7 linked regions of the Homo sapiens genome follow. The protein of the gene in region 6 interacts with the protein of the main gene of each other region in a pairwise test. Each region holds a gene or a part of one and is shown on either strand. Other genes may lie near its edges. The genes, in order: MYH3, DYNC2LI1, SON, TNNT1, CMYA5, CLIP4 and MYBPC1.

Evidence for each region.
Region 1: the proteins of CLIP4 (region 6) and MYH3 interact in a two-hybrid assay, tested with the Homo sapiens proteins (one large-scale study listed by BioGRID and IntAct).
Region 2: the proteins of CLIP4 (region 6) and DYNC2LI1 interact in a two-hybrid assay, tested with the Homo sapiens proteins (one large-scale study listed by BioGRID).
Region 3: the proteins of CLIP4 (region 6) and SON interact in a two-hybrid assay, tested with the Homo sapiens proteins (one large-scale study listed by BioGRID and IntAct).
Region 4: the proteins of CLIP4 (region 6) and TNNT1 interact in a two-hybrid assay, tested with the Homo sapiens proteins (one large-scale study listed by BioGRID and IntAct).
Region 5: the proteins of CLIP4 (region 6) and CMYA5 interact in a two-hybrid assay, tested with the Homo sapiens proteins (one large-scale study listed by BioGRID and IntAct).
Region 7: the proteins of CLIP4 (region 6) and MYBPC1 interact in a two-hybrid assay, tested with the Homo sapiens proteins (one large-scale study listed by BioGRID and IntAct).

The regions. Positions count from the first base shown.
Region 1 is NC_000017.11:10,643,810-10,647,309, reverse strand, and holds part of MYH3 (myosin-3), read left to right. Parts: intron 1-29; coding exon 30-128; intron 129-1,277; coding exon 1,278-1,381; intron 1,382-1,464; coding exon 1,465-1,603; intron 1,604-2,607; coding exon 2,608-2,726; intron 2,727-2,809; coding exon 2,810-2,959; intron 2,960-3,500. UniProt on the Homo sapiens protein: Muscle contraction.
Region 2 is NC_000002.12:43,780,539-43,784,038, forward strand, and holds part of DYNC2LI1 (cytoplasmic dynein 2 light intermediate chain 1), read left to right. Parts: intron 1-2,981; coding exon 2,982-3,016; intron 3,017-3,500. UniProt on the Homo sapiens protein: Acts as one of several non-catalytic accessory components of the cytoplasmic dynein 2 complex (dynein-2 complex), a motor protein complex that drives the movement of cargos along microtubules within cilia and flagella in concert with the intraflagellar transport (IFT) system, facilitating the assembly of these organelles.
Region 3 is NC_000021.9:33,553,038-33,556,537, forward strand, and holds part of SON (protein SON), read left to right. Parts: coding exon 1-2,354; intron 2,355-3,500. UniProt on the Homo sapiens protein: RNA-binding protein that acts as a mRNA splicing cofactor by promoting efficient splicing of transcripts that possess weak splice sites.
Region 4 is NC_000019.10:55,132,207-55,135,706, forward strand, and holds the end of TNNT1 (troponin T, slow skeletal muscle), read right to left. Parts: intron 1,999-3,500; coding exon 1,860-1,998; intron 1,722-1,859; coding exon 1,681-1,721; intron 755-1,680; coding exon 709-754; 3' UTR 492-708; downstream 1-491. UniProt on the Homo sapiens protein: Troponin T is the tropomyosin-binding subunit of troponin, the thin filament regulatory complex which confers calcium-sensitivity to striated muscle actomyosin ATPase activity.
Region 5 is NC_000005.10:79,734,836-79,738,335, forward strand, and holds part of CMYA5 (cardiomyopathy-associated protein 5), read left to right. Parts: coding exon 1-3,500. UniProt on the Homo sapiens protein: May serve as an anchoring protein that mediates the subcellular compartmentation of protein kinase A (PKA) via binding to PRKAR2A. May function as a repressor of calcineurin-mediated transcriptional activity.
Region 6 is NC_000002.12:29,121,915-29,125,414, reverse strand, and holds part of CLIP4 (CAP-Gly domain-containing linker protein 4), read right to left. Parts: intron 1-3,500.
Region 7 is NC_000012.12:101,681,971-101,684,249, reverse strand, and holds part of MYBPC1 (myosin-binding protein C, slow-type), read right to left. Parts: intron 1,647-2,279; coding exon 1,588-1,646; intron 1-1,587. UniProt on the Homo sapiens protein: Thick filament-associated protein located in the crossbridge region of vertebrate striated muscle a bands. Slow skeletal protein that binds to both myosin and actin.

The sequences.
Region 1 (3,500 bases), on a different chromosome or scaffold from region 6:
TGAAAGAGAGTCCTGTGTTTGTGTTCCAGATCTTCTGGAAAAATCAAGAGTCACTTTCCAGCTGAAGGCTGAAAGAAGCTACCACATCTTCTACCAGATTCTTTCTAACAAGAAGCCTGAGCTCATAGGTGAGGAAGTCACCAGTGGGGCTGGTCTTTTAGGTAGTTTGACTCTGATCACTAGACCAAGGAGAGTTGTATCTACGTAGAGTGACTCTACAGTCAACAGGGAAAGTTTATTTTATTTTATTTATTTATTTTGAGATAGGGTCTCACTCTGATGCCCAGGCTGGGGTGCAGTGGCACAAGCACAGCTCACTTGTAGTCTTGACCTTTCTGGGTTCAAGTAATCCTCCAGCCCCAGCCTCCCGAGTGGCTGCGACTACAGGTGCATGCCCCCACACCAGGCTACCTTTTGTGTTTTTTGTAGAGATGAGGTTTCACCATGTTGCCCAGGTTGGTCTTGAACTCCTGGGCTCAAGCAATTTGCCCGACTCGGCCTCCCACAGTGCTGGGATTATAGGTGTGAGCCACTGCACTTTGCCAGGAAAAGCTTATTTTAGAAATGGGATGTGGCTATCTGGGCAGTGACATGCCAATTTGAAAACCTAATCAAATGGAGGGCAACAAGATTAGACCACTCCTGACCAGCTCTGGTTTATAAAAACCTTCTGAGCAACTGAACACCTAACTGTCCTTTGGCGCCCCCTTGTGTTCTGGCACAGAAACAACCTATGGCCAAATGCGACGCCAAAGCAAACAGAATAATCAAGCCCACGGAGGCACTGCACACTGCCCCTTGTCTGCCCCTCACAGAGGTCTCCATGCACACTGCTTCTTTGCTCTTTGGCTGTATTTGCTCAGCCTTCTGGTCTCCAGCTTGGAAACAGGCTGCTGCTTTTCAACAGATTTTAGAAAAGGCTATGATTATACCAAACCACCTGGGTTGGCTCTCGTCCTGACCCGCACTCAGCCAGTTTTCCCTATTAACTTCTCCCAGCCGACACTGATATGCACCATTAGCGTGCAAGGCAAGGGAATTTAAAGGTTCTCTCTAGGGTCCTTCATCTCCATTGTGTGGGAGACTGAAAAGTCTTCCCTGGACTATATTTTCCATGACAGCCTGAGTATTGTGGAACTGTCTAAAAGATTTTTAATTCTAAGTTCAATTTAGGATCCAGCGGTAAAAGTTCCAGCCCAGGGTGCAGGAGCTCAAGTCCACTGGGTGGGTTTTTTCTTTGCATCTGCATAACCTCCTGGAACTATTTGTCATTTCAGAGCTGCTGCTTATTACGACCAACCCTTACGACTACCCGTTCATTAGCCAGGGGGAGATCCTGGTGGCCAGCATAGATGATGCAGAGGAGCTGCTGGCTACAGACGTAAGTGGAACCAACAGAAGGGGTGGGTGTTCCTCCTCCATCACTGGGGCCAACTGACTGACGTGCTGCCCTTTCCATGCCAGAGCGCCATTGACATCCTGGGCTTCACCCCAGAAGAGAAATCTGGGCTCTACAAGCTGACGGGAGCCGTGATGCACTACGGGAACATGAAGTTCAAGCAGAAGCAGCGAGAGGAGCAGGCCGAGCCGGATGGCACAGAAGGTACAAAATCAGTGTGACAGCAAACCAGAGCGGGTGGCTGATCTGCTGAGGTCACTTGGTACTGCTTTTGAAAGCAATTAATCCAGCCAGGCACAGTGGCTCACACCTGTAATCCCAGCACTTTGGGAGGCTGAGGGGGCCAGATCACCTGAGGTCAGGAGTTCGAGACCAGCATGGCCAACATGGTGAAACCCCATCTCTACTAAAAAAAATTAGCTGGGCATGGTGGAGCATGCCTATAATCCCAGCTACTCAGGAGGCTGAGGCACGAGAGTCAGACAGAGTTTTGCTCTGTCATCCAGGCTAGAGTGCAGTGGCATGATCTCAGCTCACTGCAACCTCTGCTGCCTGGGTTCAAGTGATTCTCCTGCCTCAGCCTCCCGAGTAGCTGGGATTACAGGCACACACCACCGCGCCTGGCTAACTTTTTTGTATTTTTAGTAGAAACGGGGTTTCACCATGTTGGCCAGGCTCAAACTCCTGACCTCAAATGATTCGCCTGCCTTGGCATCCCAAAGTGCTGTGATTACGGGTGTGAGCCACTGTGCCCTGCCGGCATGAGAGTTTCTTGAACCCAGGAGGCAGAGGTTGCAGTGCACTGAGATCGTGCCACTGCACTCCAGCCTGGGCAACACAGTAAGACTGTCTCAAAAAAAAAAAAATGGATGGAAGCGATTAATCCTTCCATCTGGAGAAGTGAATGACCCTTTCTGGGCCTCCGATGCCCATAGCTATTGTTACCACTCGCTTTTCCTGAATCACTCGAATAGTCTTGTTTCAGATGCAGTGAGGGATGACCAGGGCTTTCTGAGACCCAGCCCTGGCTTTTCATAAAGTCCATTATATTCTCTGAGTGACTTAGCTTCCATTGGCCATGTATATGCAGTTTAGCCACAGGGAATGCACAATGTACCAAGATGAACTTAACCAACCTTTGAAACTTCTGGATGATTTTCAAAGCAGCTCTTCTACTTTTCTAAGCACTGTCCTTGTTTTCTTGCCAGTGGCTGACAAAACAGCCTATCTGATGGGCCTGAACTCTTCGGACCTCCTAAAAGCTTTGTGCTTTCCTAGAGTGAAAGTTGGGAATGAGTACGTTACCAAAGGTCAAACTGTGGATCAGGTAACAGCTTCAAGGCCGGGAAAGGGTGCAGGACCCTGCTGGCCACTTCCTTCATATCCAGTAGCTGATCTTTCCCCTGATAGGTTCACCATGCTGTGAATGCTCTTTCAAAATCAGTTTATGAAAAGTTGTTCTTGTGGATGGTCACTCGCATTAACCAGCAACTGGATACGAAGCTTCCAAGACAACACTTCATTGGTGTTTTGGACATTGCAGGCTTTGAAATCTTTGAGGTTTGTGTTACTTATATTCATATTTTCATATGGCTTCATATGAGGGAAATTGGTTTCATGATCCTAAAGGGAAGATAGCAAGATGGCGGCTGTCTTAGTTTCCTGTAAGAAACTAGATGGAGAGTGGATGGAATAGAGGAGCGGTACTTATTGGAAGGGTTTGTATTAGGGTTTTTTGTTTGTTTTTTTTTTTTGAGACTGAGTTTCACCCTGTCACTCAGGCCAGAATGCAGTGGCGCCATCTCGGCTCACTGCAACCTCTTCCTGAGTTCAAGTGAACCTCCTGCCTCAGCCTCCTGAATAGCTGGGATTACAGGCGTGTGCCACCATGCCTGGCTAATTTTTGTATTTTTAGTAGAGATGGGGTTTCACCATGTTGGCTAGGCTGGTCTCGAACTCCTGACCTCAAGTGATCCATCCGCCTCGGCCTCCGAAAGTGTTGGGATTACAGGCATGAGCCACCGCACCTGGCTGGGTTTGTATTATTTTAAAAGAGGAGAAGATGTCTATCAAGTGGAATTTTAAAGGACATTTTCAAATG
Region 2 (3,500 bases), about 15 Mb from region 6:
AGTGAGAATAAATAGCTTCGTTTAACAAGGCTGCAGAGGAAGGGGTTCAGGGTAAGTCATATTTTAGTTAAGGCCAACATGTGGAGAGAATATTCTGAAAAGGCTGAGATATTGGGGAGTTTGCCAGTCATGGAGCTGAAGTCATAGAGTGGAAGGATTTTAGAGGAAGGGAAGACAGAAGGGGATTATTGGGCCAGATTAAGGGATGTTTACAGAGTTAGGAAATTCAGAGTTCCAGGGATAATGGGTCAGAGGAGAGGGCTGGACATCTGGGGCGATTGAGGCAATGGGAGGGAAGATGGGATTCATTTTGATGGTCTCTAAATGAACTTGTACTAGGTCAATGTTTCTTGAATTAGGAAACCCACAAGACTACAGCCACATGCTCAGGGGACCAGAGTGTACTAATGAATTTTTAAATTTTGGATTGTAATTTTAATGATAATCTAAAACTTGATTTCAGTTCCCAGATTAGTTTATGTTAATTTGGAATTGTTACCATATAGTGCTATACATTTATATGAAATAATAATAAAAGTGATTTAAGGCCAGGCGTGGTGGCTCAAGACTGTAATCCCAGCACTTTGGAAGGCTGAGGTGGGAAGATCACTTGAGGCCAGGAGTTCAAGACCAGCCTGACCAACATAGTGAAACCCCATCTCAACTAAAAAATACAAAAAGTTACCTGCACGTGGTGGTGCATACTGGTAATCCCAGCTACTCCGGAGGCTGAGGCCTAAGAATCACTTGAACCCAGAGGCAGAGGTTTCATGAGCCAAGATGGTGCCACTGCACTCCAGCCTATGCAACAGAGGGAGACTCTGTCTCAAAAAAAAAAACAAAAAAGGCGAGGGGGAGTGATTTAAATCAATGAATACTAGTGTACCATGAAAATTTGAGGAAATTGGCTAGATATTATTTAAAATTCCTTCCAATTCTTATTCTACTTTCTTGCAGAGTACATTACTTTTTGGGTAATGTAGCCCTTATTAATTTAGAACTTTTACAGCATACTACATATGATACAAGTTCATTGTAGGAAAATTAGAAAATCCTGATTTTCTTTTTCTTTTTTTTTTTTTGAGACAGAGTCTCGCTCTGTCGCCTAGGTTCGAGTGCAGTGGTGTGATCTCGGCTCACTGCAGCCTCTGCCTCCTGGGTTCACACCATTCTCCTGCCTCAGCCTCCCAAGTTGCTGGGACTGCAGGTGCCCACGACCACGCCTGGTAATTTTTTTGTATTTTTAGTAGAGTTGGGGTTTCGCCATGTTAGCCAGGATGGTCTTGATATCCTGACCTCGTGATCCACCCGCCTCGGCCTCCCAAAGTGCTGGGATTACAGGCGTGAGCCACCATGCCTGGCAGAAAATCCTGATTTTCTTAAAAACTTTAATTACCTTCAAATCCTTCAGCTAGAAATAATCATTATTAACATAGTGATGTCCCCCTACATTTGTGTGTTTGTTTCTGTCTATGTGTGTGTGTGTGTGTGTGTGTGTACTTCAAGGAAGCAGGAAAAGTATTTTTTAATTGAAAACAGAGACATGCTGATCTATTATGAATGTTTTACTATGTCAGTAAGTATATTTCTACATTGTCATTCATAATAGCTGTATATTATTCTATTATATGGTTTACCATAATTAATTTAGCCAGTAGGGGACATGTAGGTTGTTTTTAGTTTTTCAGTTTGATGTAACACTGGCCAATAAACATCCTTCAATAATATACATTTTTATATTGTACAATTCCAGTTATTTTTTAATATATCTCATTACAAAAAATTTACTCAATTTGATCGTATTCCAGATATAATCTGGAGTAATTATCTTTTTTGTCAAAAACTATAGGTTTTTTTAGTAAAAACAAAAACACATATAATAAGTGTTCTGTGTTTTTGGCAATCCAGAGTTTTCCAAATTATTTTCTTTAGAGCCTGAAGGTTTCCTCCAGTGGAGCTTGTCCTGCTGTTTCTCTTTTATCTGTTTCCTTGCAAGGGGTCTTTTCTTTAAAAAAAAAAAAAAAAAAAGGATTTTACTATTTTTTAAAAATGATATAAACCACTGAGCTAATCCCTGGCTAAGCTGTGAAGTTAAGTTGCCTGACTAGTGGTAGGAATTAGGCCAGAACTTGTATTTCCTTACTCCTAAAAAGAAACTTGGGGTTGGGCATGGTGGCTCACACCTGTAATCCCAGCACTTTGAGAGGCTGAGGTGGGCAGATTAGATGAGGCCAGGAGTTCAAGACCAGCCTAGCCAACATGGCAAAACCTTGTTTCTACTAAAAATACAAAAATTACCCAGGCATGGTGGTGTGCACCTGTAATCCCAGCTACTTGAGAGGGTGAGGCACGAGAATCACTTGAGCCCAGGAGGCAGAGGTTGCAGTGAGCCAAGATCATGCCACTGCACTCCAGCCTTGGCAACAGAGTGAGACTCTGTCTCAAAAATAAAATAAAATAAAATAAAAATAAACAGAAACTTGGAATAAGTACATCCTCTGGACTTAAAACAAATTACTCTAATGCAGTATCTGAATTGCTTACTTTGAACATATTTACAATGTGTCCTTTATTTGTATGTTACCTTTTTCTTTATTTCCACTTCAACAATTGGAATTAAAACATTTTAAAAGACACTAAGCATCGGCTTAACCAGTAATTAACATTGATGAGTAGAGAAAAAATTTAAGACAGCTGCCAAGTTGACCACTTAAGTGAGGTATGATTTGCTAGTATTTGTCATCTGTGGGACTTTATAATTATAATAATAGCAGTGTAGTTACACTGTGATGGAAAGTTGACAGTTAACTTTTTCCACTTATCAAACTTTAGAACAATTCCGAAAGTTTCTAGTTTTTAGTTTCCAGGTAATTTATCATTCAATTGATTAAAAATCTATTTTGGGCCACAATTACGAACAATAATACAATTTTTACATATGAGTGACATTAACGCAGTGTTCCTTCTTTTTTAATTTCCAGGGAAAGACTACTATTATTCTAAGGTGTCTTGACAGGTAAGTGTTATGTTAACCTTTAAACTATATTTATGCTTATTCTAGTTGTATAGGGCAAGTTAGCTCTAAAAGACATAAGGAAGGGGAACGATTTTGAGACCCAAACAAAATATTTAATTCTTAGCAAATCCTTAGTATAACCTTTAAGAGCGCCTTTAAATATAAAACTAACAATAAGCCAAAAATTATATGAGACTAATACTGGATTTCCCTATTTGAGGGAGAAATGTTACCATAATTACCCAACCTACAATAGTATTTACCTTCTTTTTGGCTATGCTACTCTGATATTTAAATTATTTTTGTTCTACCTAATCTACAATTATTTGAACATTCATTGTAAGCTTTAGTTGCTCAGGGGTACATTTTTGAAGCACAGTGTTGGTCCTCAAACTGGATATTTTATCATTTATTTTATATATTTCCTAACGTATACTGTAGAAGCAGGCCATCAGATTAAGATTTAGCAGTATGATTGGTAGAT
Region 3 (3,500 bases), on a different chromosome or scaffold from region 6:
AGCAGAAGAACATGAAGTTGTTCCAGAGAGACCAGTGACTTGTATGGTATCTGAAACTCCCGCCATGTCAGCTGAACCAACTGTGTTAGCATCAGAGCCTCCTGTTATGTCAGAGACAGCAGAAACATTTGATTCCATGAGAGCCTCAGGACATGTTGCCTCAGAAGTATCTACATCCTTGTTGGTTCCAGCAGTAACTACTCCAGTGCTGGCAGAGAGCATTCTGGAGCCGCCAGCCATGGCTGCCCCAGAGTCTTCAGCTATGGCTGTCCTGGAGTCTTCGGCTGTGACCGTCCTGGAGTCTTCGACTGTGACTGTCCTGGAGTCTTCGACTGTAACTGTCCTGGAGCCTTCGGTTGTGACTGTCCCGGAGCCTCCTGTTGTGGCTGAGCCAGACTATGTTACCATTCCTGTGCCAGTTGTTTCTGCGCTGGAGCCTTCTGTGCCTGTTCTGGAACCAGCGGTGTCAGTCCTTCAACCTTCTATGATTGTTTCAGAACCATCTGTTTCTGTCCAGGAATCGACTGTGACAGTTTCAGAGCCTGCTGTCACAGTCTCAGAGCAGACTCAAGTAATACCAACTGAGGTGGCTATAGAGTCCACACCAATGATACTGGAATCTAGTATCATGTCATCACATGTTATGAAAGGAATTAATCTATCCTCTGGTGATCAAAATCTTGCTCCAGAGATTGGCATGCAGGAGATTGCATTGCATTCAGGTGAAGAACCACATGCTGAGGAACACCTGAAAGGTGACTTTTACGAAAGTGAACATGGTATAAATATAGACCTTAATATAAATAATCATTTAATTGCTAAAGAGATGGAACATAATACAGTGTGTGCTGCTGGTACTAGTCCTGTTGGGGAAATTGGTGAAGAGAAAATTTTGCCCACCAGTGAGACTAAACAGCGCACAGTATTGGATACCTACCCTGGTGTTAGTGAAGCTGATGCAGGAGAAACTCTATCTTCTACTGGTCCTTTTGCTCTGGAACCTGATGCAACAGGAACTAGTAAGGGTATTGAATTTACCACAGCATCTACTCTCAGTTTAGTTAATAAATATGATGTTGATTTATCTTTAACTACTCAAGATACTGAACATGACATGGTAATTTCCACCAGTCCTAGTGGTGGTAGTGAAGCTGACATTGAAGGGCCTTTGCCTGCTAAAGATATTCATCTTGATTTACCATCTAATAATAACCTTGTTAGTAAGGATACAGAAGAACCATTACCTGTAAAAGAGAGTGACCAGACATTAGCAGCTCTGCTCAGCCCTAAAGAAAGTAGTGGAGGAGAAAAAGAAGTACCTCCCCCTCCTAAAGAGACACTGCCTGATTCAGGATTTTCTGCCAATATTGAGGATATTAATGAAGCAGATTTAGTGAGACCGTTACTTCCTAAGGACATGGAACGTCTTACAAGCCTTAGAGCTGGCATTGAAGGACCTTTACTTGCAAGTGATGTTGGACGTGACAGATCTGCTGCCAGCCCGGTTGTAAGTAGTATGCCAGAAAGAGCTTCAGAGTCTTCTTCAGAGGAAAAAGATGATTATGAAATTTTTGTAAAAGTTAAGGACACTCACGAAAAAAGCAAGAAAAATAAGAACCGTGATAAGGGGGAGAAAGAGAAGAAAAGAGACTCTTCATTAAGATCTCGAAGTAAGCGTTCCAAATCTTCTGAACACAAATCACGCAAGCGTACCAGTGAATCTCGTTCTAGGGCAAGAAAGAGATCATCTAAGTCCAAGTCTCATCGCTCTCAGACACGTTCACGGTCACGTTCAAGACGCAGGAGGAGAAGCAGCAGATCAAGATCAAAGTCTAGAGGAAGAAGATCTGTATCAAAAGAGAAGCGCAAAAGATCTCCAAAGCACAGATCCAAGTCTAGGGAAAGAAAAAGAAAAAGATCAAGCTCCAGGGATAACCGAAAGACAGTTAGAGCTCGAAGTCGAACCCCAAGTCGTCGGAGTCGGAGTCATACTCCAAGTCGTCGACGAAGGTCTAGATCTGTGGGTAGAAGAAGGAGCTTTAGCATTTCCCCAAGCCGCCGCAGCCGCACCCCCAGCCGCCGCAGCCGCACCCCCAGCCGCCGCAGCCGCACCCCCAGCCGCCGCAGCCGCACCCCCAGCCGCCGGAGCCGCACCCCTAGCCGTCGGAGCCGCACCCCAAGCCGCCGGAGAAGATCAAGGTCTGTGGTAAGAAGACGAAGCTTCAGTATCTCACCAGTCAGATTAAGGCGATCAAGAACACCCTTAAGAAGAAGGTTTAGCAGATCTCCCATCCGTCGTAAAAGATCCAGGTCTTCTGAACGAGGCAGATCACCCAAACGTCTGACAGATTTGGGTGAGTCATTTTAAAGTTTAATGGGATGGTAGTAGAAAATGTTTTAAACCTTAATTTTTTTCTGACCTTGAGTCAAGTGAAATACTTAGTTACTGGTTTAGGATAAATGTTTCTGTCTTTAAGTTTTTATTATTACATGGTACTGTATTTAGGAACTACTGGGATCAGTGTATTATAATTAGAGTTAAAAAGTCCTGTTTCAGAGTATAATAGAACCAAGGTGTTTCCATATTTGAATGTTTTATTTTGTTTTAGTTATCTTGCCATAGCTAAAAATTGAAAGCAGAAACAGATGTAGAACTCTAGCTAAATTAAAAACAAGCTAAGTATATGCTCAGATTGTTATTGTATGTGTTCTAACATACATCCTTGCAACTAAGCCTAAAATTACAATGTTCCTTTTTAAATAAGTTAACATATCTTAAAATGGCATTATAGGACTGTTAAATGAAGGTAATTCTGATTGGTATAGTTGGTAATGGAAGTGAGTGGGGAATTTTGCGTGTGGGGGTTATTTAATTGGGTAGGTGATACTAGCTAAATAAAGTTAAATATTTTAGATCAGTGTGATTTTTAATAACCTGTTCTGCTTTACTTTAAAGATAACTGTTCTAATTTCCCCTGATTTTTAGTGTGCAGAGGTGATTAAAACTTGATCGATATGAATGATTACCTATAATAAATATGGATAATTTATCCTTATCCCAGTATACTGGACATTTCTAGGCCAGGATTGTCTAAAGAAGAAGAGGTTAAGAGTAAAAAGGGAGAATCTGCATTCAGTTCAACAGAAGTTTTCTGAGTTCTTTTTTATTCACAGCAGAGGAACAGTATGTAATTCCTCAAGTGATTGCAAGTGGTGGAGGAGACATGGGTAAAATGCATATATGTCTCTCTTATAGTAACACTGTCTAAAAAGGACAGAATGTGATTACTATAATACTGATAGAGGTGAGGTACTTTAGGAACACAATGGGAAAAGGGGAAAAGGAATGTTAATTCTGACTTAATGACAGCTTGTTAGAAGAGGTGGCACTTCGGCTGGGCATGGTGGCTCATACCTGTAATCCCAGCACTTTGGGAGGCCGAGGCAGGTGGATCACCTGAGGTCAGGAGTTCGAGACCAGCCTGGCCAATGTGGAGAAA
Region 4 (3,500 bases), on a different chromosome or scaffold from region 6:
CACCTGTAGTCCCAGCTGCTTGGGAGGCTGAGACAGGAAAATTGCTTGAACCCGGGAGGTGGAGGTTGCGGTGAGCCGAGATCATGCCACTGCACTCCAGGCTGGGTGACAGAGCAAGACTCCATCTCAAAAAAAAAAAAAAAAAAAGATGCTGCGGCCGGTGCAGTGATTCACACCTAAAATCCCAACACTTTCAGAGGCTGTTGTGGGAGGATCACTTGAGCCCAGGAATTCAAGGCTGCAGTGAGCCGTGATCACGCCACTGCACTGCAGCCTGGGCGACAGAGCAAGACCCTGTCTCTAAAAATTAAAAATAAAAATGCTACTATGAACATTCATGTACAAGCTTTTGTGTGGACAAAGGTTCTTGGTTCTCTTGGATATACATCCAGGAGGGGAACTGCTGGGTCCTGCAGAAATGCTTTCACTTGTTGAGGAACCGCCAGGCTGCTTGCAAAGCTGTTGCATTTTCCATTCCCACCAGCAGTGTGTGAAGGTTCAGCCTGCCGTACTTTAATGATTATTGGTGACACTCTTTCAAGTAACTTGTTGGTAATAAGAAGTCAATTAACCAGGAGAGACCAGCTGCATCTCAACCATAATAACATCAGAGAACCCAGCGGGTGTCTGAGGGGAGCGTTTATTTCAAGCTACCGATGGGACAAACACTCCCAGGCTTCCCAGGTGCCACTGTCCGGGGCGGCATCCTCACTTCCAGCGGCCTCCAACGCGGCCCTTCCCTGCCCCCTTCCGGCTGTAGAAGAATGAGGTGGTATCAGGAAAAAGGGGCCCCTCCAGTCTCTGAAATGGGCCCCAGGCCCTCAATTCAGGAAGCCCATTCCCCAAAATATTAGCCCTCCCTGCCCAGAGGAAGCAGTGAGCAAAACAACTGTCACCTCTTTTGGGTTCTATGACTGGGGGGCAGCGGCTGGTGGTCAAAGCCTCGCTGACATGTGGGAGCTGATATTTGGGGGCGAGTGCAGGGTGTTCATGGGGGAGCTGATGAATGTTTATGAGTCAGGGGCCAGGGTGGGGGGAGGAAGGGTTGGATGATCTGGGCATGGGTGGGTAACACGCAGGAAGGGCTGGGGTGAAAGAGACAGGAAATGGGAGAAGAGGAGAAGGGAGAGGGAGAGGAGGGAGGAAGGAAGAGGGAGTGGAGAAACAGAGAGATTCAGGGAAGACCCTCTCGGCTGGGCGCGGTGGCTCACGCCTGTAATCCCAGCACTTTAGGAGGCCAAGGCGGGTGGATCACGAGGTCAGGAGTTCGAGACCAGCCTGACCAACATGGTGAAACCCCGTCTCTACTAAAAATACAAAAATTAGCCACGCTTGGTGGCGCGCACCTGTAATCCCAGCTACTCAGGGGGCTGAGGCAGGAGAATCGCTTGAACCCGGGAGATGGAAGTTGCAGTGAGCTGAGATCACTCCACTGCACTCCAGCCTGGGTGACAGAGCGAGACGCAGTCTCAATAAAAAAAAAAAAAAAGAAAGAAAAAGAAAAAGGAACTGAGACCCAGGATTCCGAGAGCAGAGAGAGGAGGACAGAGAAGGAAGGACAAAGAGAAAGGGGCAGAAACTCAGGCAGTGGGGGATGGAGCCCACAGAGGGAGGGAAAGAGGCCTGAGAGTCAGCGGGAGGGTAGGGACAAGAGCAAGGGCTTGAGACGGTCACACTCACAACTTCTGGGCGTGGCTGATGCGGTTGTACAGCACGTTGATCTGCGGAGGCAGAAGACAGATGCTGGGACAGCCGGTGGGGACGTGGGGACGGGCCACCCACCCCTGCCTGGAGTTTGCTGGTCCCTCCCAGCCCAGCCCTGCCCTCTCTCCCTCCCTCCCTGCGGAGCTGGGTCTCACCTCATATTTCTGCTGTTTCAGCTTCGCCATCAGGTCGAACTTCTCAGACTCCAGCTGGTGGATCCAGTCCGACAGCTCCTGGGCTTTCTCCCTGGCAGGGCAGGAGGGCTGTGATGGAGGCAGCCAGGCAGACCGGGCCCTAGGCCCAGGGACGGAGAGGAACTTGGGCCCAGAGAGGTTGTGGGAACCACCCAAAGCCACACAGCGAGACTGTGAGTTCAGCGTTGTCGGCACCATTTTGTTCATATTTGAGGCCGAGAGTTTTAAAATCTGTGCCCACTTTCTCCACATCCGAGCTGGAGCTCTCGCATTTCCCAAGGGGAGAGAAGGGTGTCATGATTAAGAGACCAGGCTCGGCACCTGTAATCCCAGCACTTTGGGAGGCAGAGGCCAGCAGAACACTTGAGCCCAGGAGTTCAAGACCAGCCTGGGCAACAAAGAGAGACCCCGTCTCTGCTAAAAATAATTAAAAAAATTAGCCAGGCAGGGTGTTTCCGGCTACTTGGGAGGCTGAGGCAGAAGGAACCTGGGAGGTCAAAGCTGCAGTGAGCTGTGATTGCACCACTGTATTCCTGCCTGGCAACAGAGCAAGACAAAAGAAAGGAAAGAAAAGGAGAAAGGAAAGTGGGGAGGGGAGGGGAGAGGAGAAGAGGGGAGGGGAGAGGAGAAGAGGGGAGGGGAGAGGAGAAGAGGGGAGGGGAGAGGAGGGAAGAAGAAGGGGAGGGAGGGAGGGGAGGGGAGACGAGGGGAGGGGAGGGGAGGGGAGACGAGGGGAAGGGAGGGGAGGGGAGAGGGGAAAGAAAAGGAAGAAAGAAAAGACCGAGCCCAGGCTCTGCAGTTAGAAGCCCCTGGTTCAATTCCCAGCCATGCCATTCTCTGGTTTATGAATATGTCACATGACTTCCTTTAGAATCCTGTTTCCTTCTCTAGAAAATATGGAAATAAAACTGTGGAAGAGATGGCTGCTTGCCTACCTGTTAGCCCTTCTCCCTTTCTTCTAGAAATAGCCTCTTGTGCATTAGGCTGAGTTGAAAAACTACTTTGCCCAATCTCCCTTGCAGGTAGGGGTGGCTACTCAGACGAAAGCAGGTCACTGGGTGCGGCTTCCAAAAGAGACTGTGTGGCTCTTCTCTTGCGTCTTCTTTCTGCTGCTTGGATCATCCATGTGAGGCTGGAGCTAGCAGCTATATTGGACTAAGTGATTTTGAGGATGGAAATATTGGGCTAAAAGTAGTGAGTGAAGCAGAAAACATAGGAGTCTGGTCTCTGATTTTGTAGAATTGCCATACCAGCCCTGGACTAAAACCTACCTTTCCTTCCTTCCTTCCTTCCTTCTTTTCTTTCTTTTCTTTTTTTTTTGATAGGGTCTCACTTTGTCACCCAGGCTGGAGTGCAGTGACACCATCACAGCTCACCGCAGTCTCAACCTCTCAGGCTCTAGTGATCCTCTCACCTCAGCCTTTTTTTTTTTTTTTTTTTAAGACAGAGTTTCGCTCATGTCGCCCAGGCTGGAGTGCAGTGGTGCCATCTCGGCTCACCGCAACCTCCGCCTCCTGGGTTCAGTGATTCTCCTGCCTCAGCCTCCAGAGTAGCTGGGATTACAGGCGCCTGCCACCACGCCCGGCTAATTTTTGTATTTTT
Region 5 (3,500 bases), on a different chromosome or scaffold from region 6:
CAAACACAGAGCTTTCCTGGCCTTCCAAAGAAGATAGCCAGGAAAAAATTAAACTACCTCCTGAAAGATTCTTCCAGAAACCAGTGTCTGGCCTATCAGTGGAACAGGTGAAGTCAGAAACAATCTCCTCTTCTGTCAAAACAGCCCATTTCCCGGCAGAAGGTGTGGAACCTGCATTGGGCAATGAAAAAGAAGCACACAGGAGCACACCTCCTTTTCCTGAAGAGAAGCCATTGGAAGAATCAAAAATGGTTCAGTCAAAGGTTATTGATGATGCTGATGAGGGAAAGAAACCATCACCTGAAGTAAAAATACCCACACAAAGAAAACCCATCTCCTCAATCCATGCAAGAGAGCCTCAATCCCCAGAGTCACCTGAGGTGACACAAAATCCACCTACACAACCAAAGGTGGCTAAGCCGGACCTTCCTGAGGAAAAGGGAAAGAAAGGAATTTCATCTTTCAAATCGTGGATGTCCAGCTTGTTTTTTGGATCGAGCACTCCAGATAACAAAGTTGCTGAACAAGAAGACTTAGAAACACAGCCAAGTCCATCCGTAGAAAAAGCAGTGACTGTGATAGATCCTGAAGGTACAATTCCCACCAATTTTAATGTAGCTGAGAAACCAGCTGATCATTCATTATCAGAGGTAAAACTTAAAACTGCTGATGAACCCAGAGGTACTTTAGTAAAATCTGGTGACGGTCAAAACGTTAAAGAAAAATCCATGATTTTATCAAATGTAGAAGATTTACAACAGCCAAAATTCATTTCTGAGGTGTCTAGGGAAGATTATGGAAAAAAAGAAATCTCAGGCGATTCAGAGGAAATGAACATAAACTCAGTAGTTACTTCTGCTGATGGTGAGAACCTTGAAATTCAATCTTATTCACTAATCGGTGAGAAATTGGTTATGGAAGAAGCCAAAACTATTGTTCCTCCTCATGTTACTGATAGTAAAAGAGTCCAGAAGCCAGCAATCGCTCCTCCATCTAAATGGAATATTTCTATTTTTAAGGAAGAGCCAAGAAGTGATCAAAAACAAAAATCACTCCTTTCATTTGATGTAGTAGATAAGGTGCCACAACAGCCAAAATCAGCTTCCTCCAACTTTGCAAGTAAAAATATCACAAAGGAATCAGAGAAACCAGAGTCAATTATTTTGCCAGTAGAAGAATCAAAAGGCAGTTTAATTGATTTCAGTGAAGACAGACTCAAGAAAGAAATGCAAAATCCTACTTCCTTGAAAATTTCTGAAGAGGAAACAAAACTCAGGTCTGTTAGTCCAACTGAGAAGAAAGATAATTTGGAAAACAGATCATATACCTTGGCAGAAAAGAAGGTGCTGGCAGAAAAACAAAACTCTGTGGCCCCATTAGAGCTTAGAGATAGTAATGAAATAGGGAAGACACAAATTACACTTGGATCTAGATCTACTGAACTGAAAGAATCAAAAGCCGATGCTATGCCACAGCACTTCTATCAAAATGAAGACTACAATGAAAGACCCAAAATCATTGTTGGTTCTGAAAAGGAGAAAGGTGAAGAAAAAGAAAATCAGGTATATGTGCTTTCAGAAGGAAAGAAGCAGCAGGAACATCAGCCTTATTCTGTGAATGTAGCCGAGTCTATGAGTAGAGAATCAGATATCTCTTTAGGTCATTCTTTGGGTGAAACTCAATCATTTTCATTAGTTAAAGCTACATCAGTTACTGAAAAATCAGAAGCCATGCTCGCAGAGGCTCACCCAGAAATCAGAGAAGCAAAGGCAGTAGGAACCCAACCACATCCTTTAGAAGAAAGTAAAGTTTTGGTGGAGAAAACCAAGACTTTCCTGCCGGTGGCTCTTTCTTGTCGTGATGAAATAGAGAACCACTCTTTATCTCAGGAAGGAAATCTAGTATTAGAAAAGTCAAGCAGAGATATGCCAGATCACAGTGAAGAAAAAGAACAGTTCAGAGAGTCAGAGCTATCGAAAGGCGGTTCAGTAGATATCACAAAAGAAACTGTGAAACAAGGATTTCAAGAAAAGGCAGTAGGAACCCAACCACGTCCTTTAGAAGAAAGTAAAGTTTTGGTGGAGAAAACTAAGACTTTCCTGCCAGTGGTTCTTTCTTGTCATGATGAAATAGAGAACCACTCTTTGTCTCAGGAAGGAAATCTAGTGTTAGAAAAGTCAAGCAGAGATATGCCAGATCACAGTGAAGAAAAAGAACAGTTCAAAGAGTCAGAGCTATGGAAAGGTGGTTCAGTAGATATCACAAAAGAAAGTATGAAAGAAGGATTTCCATCTAAAGAATCCGAAAGGACTTTAGCTCGTCCTTTTGATGAAACTAAGAGCTCAGAAACACCGCCATATTTGCTGTCACCTGTAAAACCACAAACTCTTGCTTCAGGAGCTTCTCCAGAAATTAACGCAGTGAAGAAAAAAGAAATGCCACGATCAGAATTGACTCCAGAAAGGCATACAGTTCATACTATTCAGACATCTAAAGATGACACATCCGATGTGCCTAAACAATCTGTTCTTGTTTCAAAGCACCACTTGGAGGCTGCGGAAGATACCCGTGTAAAGGAACCACTGTCTTCAGCAAAAAGCAACTATGCTCAATTTATATCTAATACATCAGCAAGCAATGCTGATAAAATGGTTTCTAATAAAGAAATGCCCAAGGAACCTGAAGACACATATGCAAAAGGTGAAGACTTTACAGTGACTAGTAAGCCAGCCGGACTTTCAGAAGATCAGAAGACTGCCTTTAGTATCATTTCTGAAGGCTGTGAGATATTGAATATTCATGCTCCGGCCTTTATTTCTTCAATCGATCAGGAAGAAAGTGAACAAATGCAAGATAAATTAGAATATTTGGAAGAGAAAGCCTCATTTAAAACCATACCACTCCCTGATGATAGTGAAACAGTTGCTTGTCATAAAACATTAAAGAGCAGGTTAGAAGATGAAAAAGTTACCCCATTGAAAGAAAATAAACAAAAGGAAACTCATAAGACAAAAGAAGAGATATCCACAGATTCAGAAACTGATTTATCATTTATTCAGCCCACAATTCCCAGTGAAGAGGATTATTTTGAAAAATATACTTTGATTGATTATAACATCTCCCCAGACCCAGAAAAACAGAAAGCTCCACAGAAATTAAATGTTGAAGAGAAACTCTCAAAGGAAGTTACAGAAGAAACTATCTCTTTCCCAGTAAGTTCAGTGGAAAGTGCACTAGAACATGAATATGACTTGGTGAAATTAGATGAAAGTTTTTATGGACCAGAAAAGGGCCACAACATATTATCTCATCCAGAGACCCAAAGCCAAAACTCAGCTGACAGGAATGTTTCAAAGGACACAAAGAGAGATGTGGACTCAAAGTCACCGGGGATGCCTTTATTTGAAGCAGAGGAAGGAGTTCTATCACGAACCCAGATATTTCCTACCACTATTAAAGTCATTGATCCAGAATTTCTGGAGGAGCCACCTGCACTTGCA
Region 6 (3,500 bases):
GAGAAACCCAGAGACCTGTGCAGGGTCCTCCTCAACTATTCATCATATGCTTGTGAGGAAATACTTGAAGTAAGGGAAAGAACCATCCATAAGGACTACAGGGATTAGTGCCTATTCTCACAAGGAAGATTGAAAAAGAATCCTCATAATTCACACAGCATTGAGTAGAACAGCAGTCCCCAATCTTTCTGGCACCAGGGGCCGGGGTAGGGGGACCAGTACCAGTCCGTAGCCAGGGGGTTCAGGGCCCCTGGAGTGGAATTCTCAGTAGTAGGGAACAATTAGCCCCAGGCCAAGAATGGCTCCAGACCCACCTAACAAATCAGAAAAGTAGGACCTCAAAGGGTCCAACTATTTCCAAGTAACTAAACTGTATCCCAGAACAAAGTTCAAGAATACTTACAGGAATACAAAAATATCCAGCATCTAACAAGGTAAAATTCACAATGTCTGGCAGCCAATTAAAGATTATCAGGCAAGCAAAGAAAGAAGAAAACATGACCCATAATCAGGGGAATAATAGACCTAGAGTTGACATGGATATTATAATTAACAGAGAAGGACATTAAAACAGTCAATATAACTCTATTCCAAATGTTCAAAGGTGGAGAAGAGACCTGGGCATAAAAAAGAGCCAAAGCAAACTTTAGAGATGAAAACTTCATCTGAAATGAAAACTGCACTGGAAAAAATCAGCAGCTAATTAATTAGACACTGCAGAAGGAAAGATTAATGAACTTGAAGATGCAGTAATATAAACTATCCAAAATAAAGAGAAAAAAATGTTTAAATATAAAATAAATCAGTGAGTTATGGGACAACTTCAAGCAGTCTATAATATACATGCAATTACAGTATCTGAAAACGGGGAGAAGCAGACAAAAAATTTTTTTAAATGATTTCCCAAACTTAATGAAAACTGAAACTCAGATCCAAGCAGCTCAACCAAACCCAAGCACAAGAACATACAGAAAACAATACCTAAGCACATAATAGTAAAATTGCTCAAAATAAAAACTCTTTAAAGCAGCCAAAAAAAAGACATTACATCTAGAGAAACAAAAATGACAGCAGAAACAATGCAAATGGGAAGAGAGCAGAGCAAGATCTTTCAAGTACTGAAAGAAAACTACCAACCTATAATTCTAAACCCAGCAAACACATTTTTCAAAAAAATAAGGTAAATAAAGATGTTTTCAGACATAAAACAGCTGAAAGAATTCATCACTGGCAGACCAGCACCATAAGAAACATTACAGGAAGTGCTTCAGGCGGAAGGAAATGGTATCAGATGGAAATCTGGACCTACACTCACAAAGGAATGAAGAGCACTAGAAATGGTAACTACATGGGTAAATGAGATTTTTTTATATTATTTAAATTTAACAGATAATTCAATGTTTAAGCAAAATATATAATAAGGTATTTTGGTATTTATAATGTATATAATGTGTATTCTGCATGAACTGATTCTGAAGGCATTTCAAAGCAAAAGATTCCAAAAATTGTTATGCAAGAACAGTACATAGTTTCACAGGGTAATCACCTTGAGAGTCAACACTGAGTCACATGCCTCAACTCTGGTTTCTGTGGACTGGTTTCTTTTTGTTTCTTTGTTTTACACTCATTAGTTGGTATTATATAAAAATTCCCTATGGGGGCCTACATGACCCCGCATGACCTGGCCGGTGTCTTACTCTCCAATTCCTTCTCCTCCCACTCTGCCATCAATCACTTTGCTTCTCAGCCACAAAGACCTTCCATTAATTCTTAGGATATACCAAGGTCTTCCCTCAACACTGTGCCTTTAGTTTTCTGTTTTCCTTCCTGGAACACTTCTTCCCAGGCTCTTCTCACAGCCAGCCTCTTCTGATTCTCCGAATGACCACCCCATCTAAAGCAGCTGCCTTGCCCCCATTGTTCTCTATCACAGCACCCTGTTTCTTTCTTCCACAGAATTCATTATGACCTATTTTTGCTTTGTCTATTCATTTGTTTGTTTACTGGTCTTCCCTATAGAAGACCTGTCTTGGTCACTGATATCTCCAGCATCCAGGACAGTCCCTAGCACACAAGAGGCCCTCAATAAATACTTGCTCAATAAATGCAATTATATATGCCGCTTTTCAAGGGGAGACTGACCACAGTGTACCAAGAAAGCAGCTACGATGAAAAGGGTCTAGAAATCCTGACAATGAGAAACTGGTGAAGGAAACAGAAATGTGTAGCCTAAGGAGTTTCAGGCTAAGTTAAAATGTTCAAACTATCTGCAGATACTTAAAGGCTATCCTATAAAGGAATTTGTGCCATGTATCAAACTAGAATCACTTGGCCAAAATTTCAGGGAGACCAATTTTGAGTCAACATACGAAAACAATTTTATTACAACTAAAGCTTTTTAACAATAAAATTAACTATTTTGTTAGTTTCCCACTATTGAAGACATGCAAGAGGTTAAATGGTTATCTGACAGAGATCCTGAAAATATGATGTCTACACAGGGAGGTGAGTGGGGAAAGGTTCATAAGAGTCTACAAAAACCTATAATTCTAAGACTACAATGCTTTTTTTTTTTTTTTTTTTTTTTTGGAGACAAAGTCTCACTCTGTGGCCCAGGCTGGAGTGCAGTGATGCGATCTCAGCTCACTGCAACCTCTGCCTCCTGGTTCAAGTGATTCTCCTGCCTCAGCCTCCTGAGTAGCTGACAATATAGGCGCACACCACCATGCCTGGCTAATTTTTGTATTTTTAGTAGAGACGGGGTTTCAACGTTTAATTCCAGTTATGCAAAATGTCAATATCCATTATTACCTTTCATTCAATGTATTTATTCAACAATCATTGAGCAACTAATAACAAATGACTATATTAGCCTTTTTGAGATAAACAAAAATAAAATGATTGTTCTCCATCCCAAAGCGCTACAATATAGGAAAGAAAATAAGACAATTAGAAGTCAAGATGGAGTGAGACAAGTATCATACCTAAGGTACAATGCACAAGGTTCAAGGTTTCCCCTGCATAACTGATTTTGTTATATCTGAAAATAAGCCCAGTTGATTACTGCAAAACCTGCAGATAACTCCCAAGATCAAGGCACAGGTTTTATATAATACTTCTGACGACTGGTCTAGGTAAGCTGCTAAAGAATCTGAATACAAAAAAAAAAAAAAAGAAACTTGGAGATGAGGAATTACTATACTACAACGAATATGACTAAAAAGACAAATTCTCAGTCCAATAACTTTATATCTACTAATATCTACTAATATGTAAAAATTGTATGATCTCTACCTCCAAAAACAATTTGAAATGGTGAACCAACATTTTACTTGAAAAACTCTAAACTGGAAATTTAACAATTCTATCAAATTTATCTCCTGGTTCCCTTTTATTATGGTTCTGGAGAAATAAGCCTAAATAGATGAGAAGTGGAATGCTTCTAAATTAACATTTTACAGAGGAGATGTAAATGGACCAATTTAAACATTAACCAATCT
Region 7 (2,279 bases), on a different chromosome or scaffold from region 6:
TGTAAAAGATGTAGGAAAATAGAAGCACATGAAATGAAGGGTGGGGATCCAGTCACGTCAAAAGGATCATTAATATGTAAAACATTTATTAATATGCACAACTACTTTGCCTGAATAGGTGGCAAAGTCATTCTGATTGTATAGTGAATATCTATGGTAAGAGCTTCCAAACCATTAGCTTAAAACAAATACAAAAACCAAAACCCTACAACATATATATATCGTGTTTTTCAACAAAAGAAAAACATAGACAATAGACAAAGTGTTAGTGTACATATATATATGTTGAAATTCTAAAAGGCAAAATTATCAAGTACAAATATTAGACTAGTGTATTCTATAATATTGTATTCTGCATGGAATATATATGACTGATCTAAATAGACACAAAACCTTATGTTACAAAGCTATTCTATATACAATCTACAAAGCTTTCAAAAAAGAACCTTACTTTTTTCCTCTTTTGAAAGCTGTTATTATCTCTGGAAACTCACAAAACAAATATTGTAAACTCAGGCATAGATCTACATTATCAGGGTTTTTATCAGGTTGCATACCCAGCTGCAAAAAACTCTTAATTTGCAATTCCAAATGGGGGTGAATCACATATATATGATAGTACTCATTTATTGCTTGATACATTTTGTAATAGAGCCTGGAATTTTCTTTCCTTTTAAGTTCATAAACGTGAAATAATTTGAGTCCCCATGAAAATGTCCAAAATCTTCAACAGATAGATGGGTTACAGATATTCTACTTGTGAATTTGTAATGGGAATATTTTAAATATGTAAGTTTCCCAATTTATTTTTTTTATTTTTTATTTTTTTGAGACAAAGTCTCACTTTGTCACCTAAGCTGGAGATCTTGGCTCACTGAAGCCTCCTCGACCTTCCAGATTCAAGTGATCCTCCTGCCTCAGCTCTCCAAGTAGCTAGGACTATAGGCATGTGCCACCACACCTGGCTAAGTTTTGTACTTTTTGTAGAGATGGGAGTTTGCCATGTTGCCCAATCTGATCTTGGACTCCTGGGATCAAGCGATCCACCTACCTCAGCCTCCCAAAGTGCTGGGATTATAGGCGAGAACCATCACGCCCAGCCTCTAAATATTGGATCTATTTTTGTATCCTCTTTCCATAAAAAATGCTCAGAACATCAAAAAAAATGTTTGAAATGTTCAGTTCTCTGAATTGCATCATGAATGTAAGGAAACTATGCTGTCAACTATCTTTAAAAAAGTCTCTCTACATTTAAAAAATGAAAATATTAAAGAAATATTGATACCCAAGTTTTGATAGTCTTATTATATAAAACGAGATCATCTTCAAATGTAGCTTTCTGGCTTTATTCATGGAGACTTGTGGTATGGTATGTAGCTTTCTGACAAAACTTAGTTTCTACATTACTTAATATCCTTGAATAATTTGGCCTTCCTTGTTCATGGCATAAGCACTGTATGCCATGAGCTGCTAAGGGGTACAATTAAAAGCAAATGAGAAAGTCAAGCTTTACATGCAAGGTGCATTTTCATGTAAGAGGAATGGAACGGAAAGTAGAATATCCAGTGGGATATAAACTTTTTAAACCTGTTGCTGCCCCTCCAGGAAGACTGGTTGTCCAGGGGTATTTACTCCTTGATATATCACTGCAGAATCAGAATATTTGTACCAGTATTTATTTATTCTCAGTTGACATTCTTACCTTTTTTCACAACTCAACTTGATTCAAGTTACCTATTATCAGAGTAACAGTCTGATGATAAACAATTTCAGCTTTACTTTTAGGACCAAAAGCTTTTATCAATATATCACAATTGATACTTTATTACGAACTTATGTACTAGAATACATTATTCTTTTTATCAAATTTAATTACTGTACCATTTACTACATTTTCACTAAAAAGAATATATCATGTATATGTATAATACTATTCGCTTTTAAGGAGGGCCCCAAATATTGTTCCATTTGTTAAAGCATCATTTTATATCATTAACAACATTCAGCTAGTTTCAAAGCATAAATAAGTGGTACTTTTTTTTTTAGTTTTTGTTTTTTGGGGGGATATTGAAACAAAAGCATCAACAATACTTTGGAACTAATAAGGCTAGCAGTTTAGAAACCAGATGACTTGCAATTATGAACTTAATCATTTAAAGCCAATAAAGCAGCTAAAAATGTTTAAATTTGTAAGGGTTATCTCAATAGTAAGGCTTGAAATTTTCTAAGAATATTATATGCCTTATATTTGTGAGGAAAAAAAAATCAAATCTTTTTCC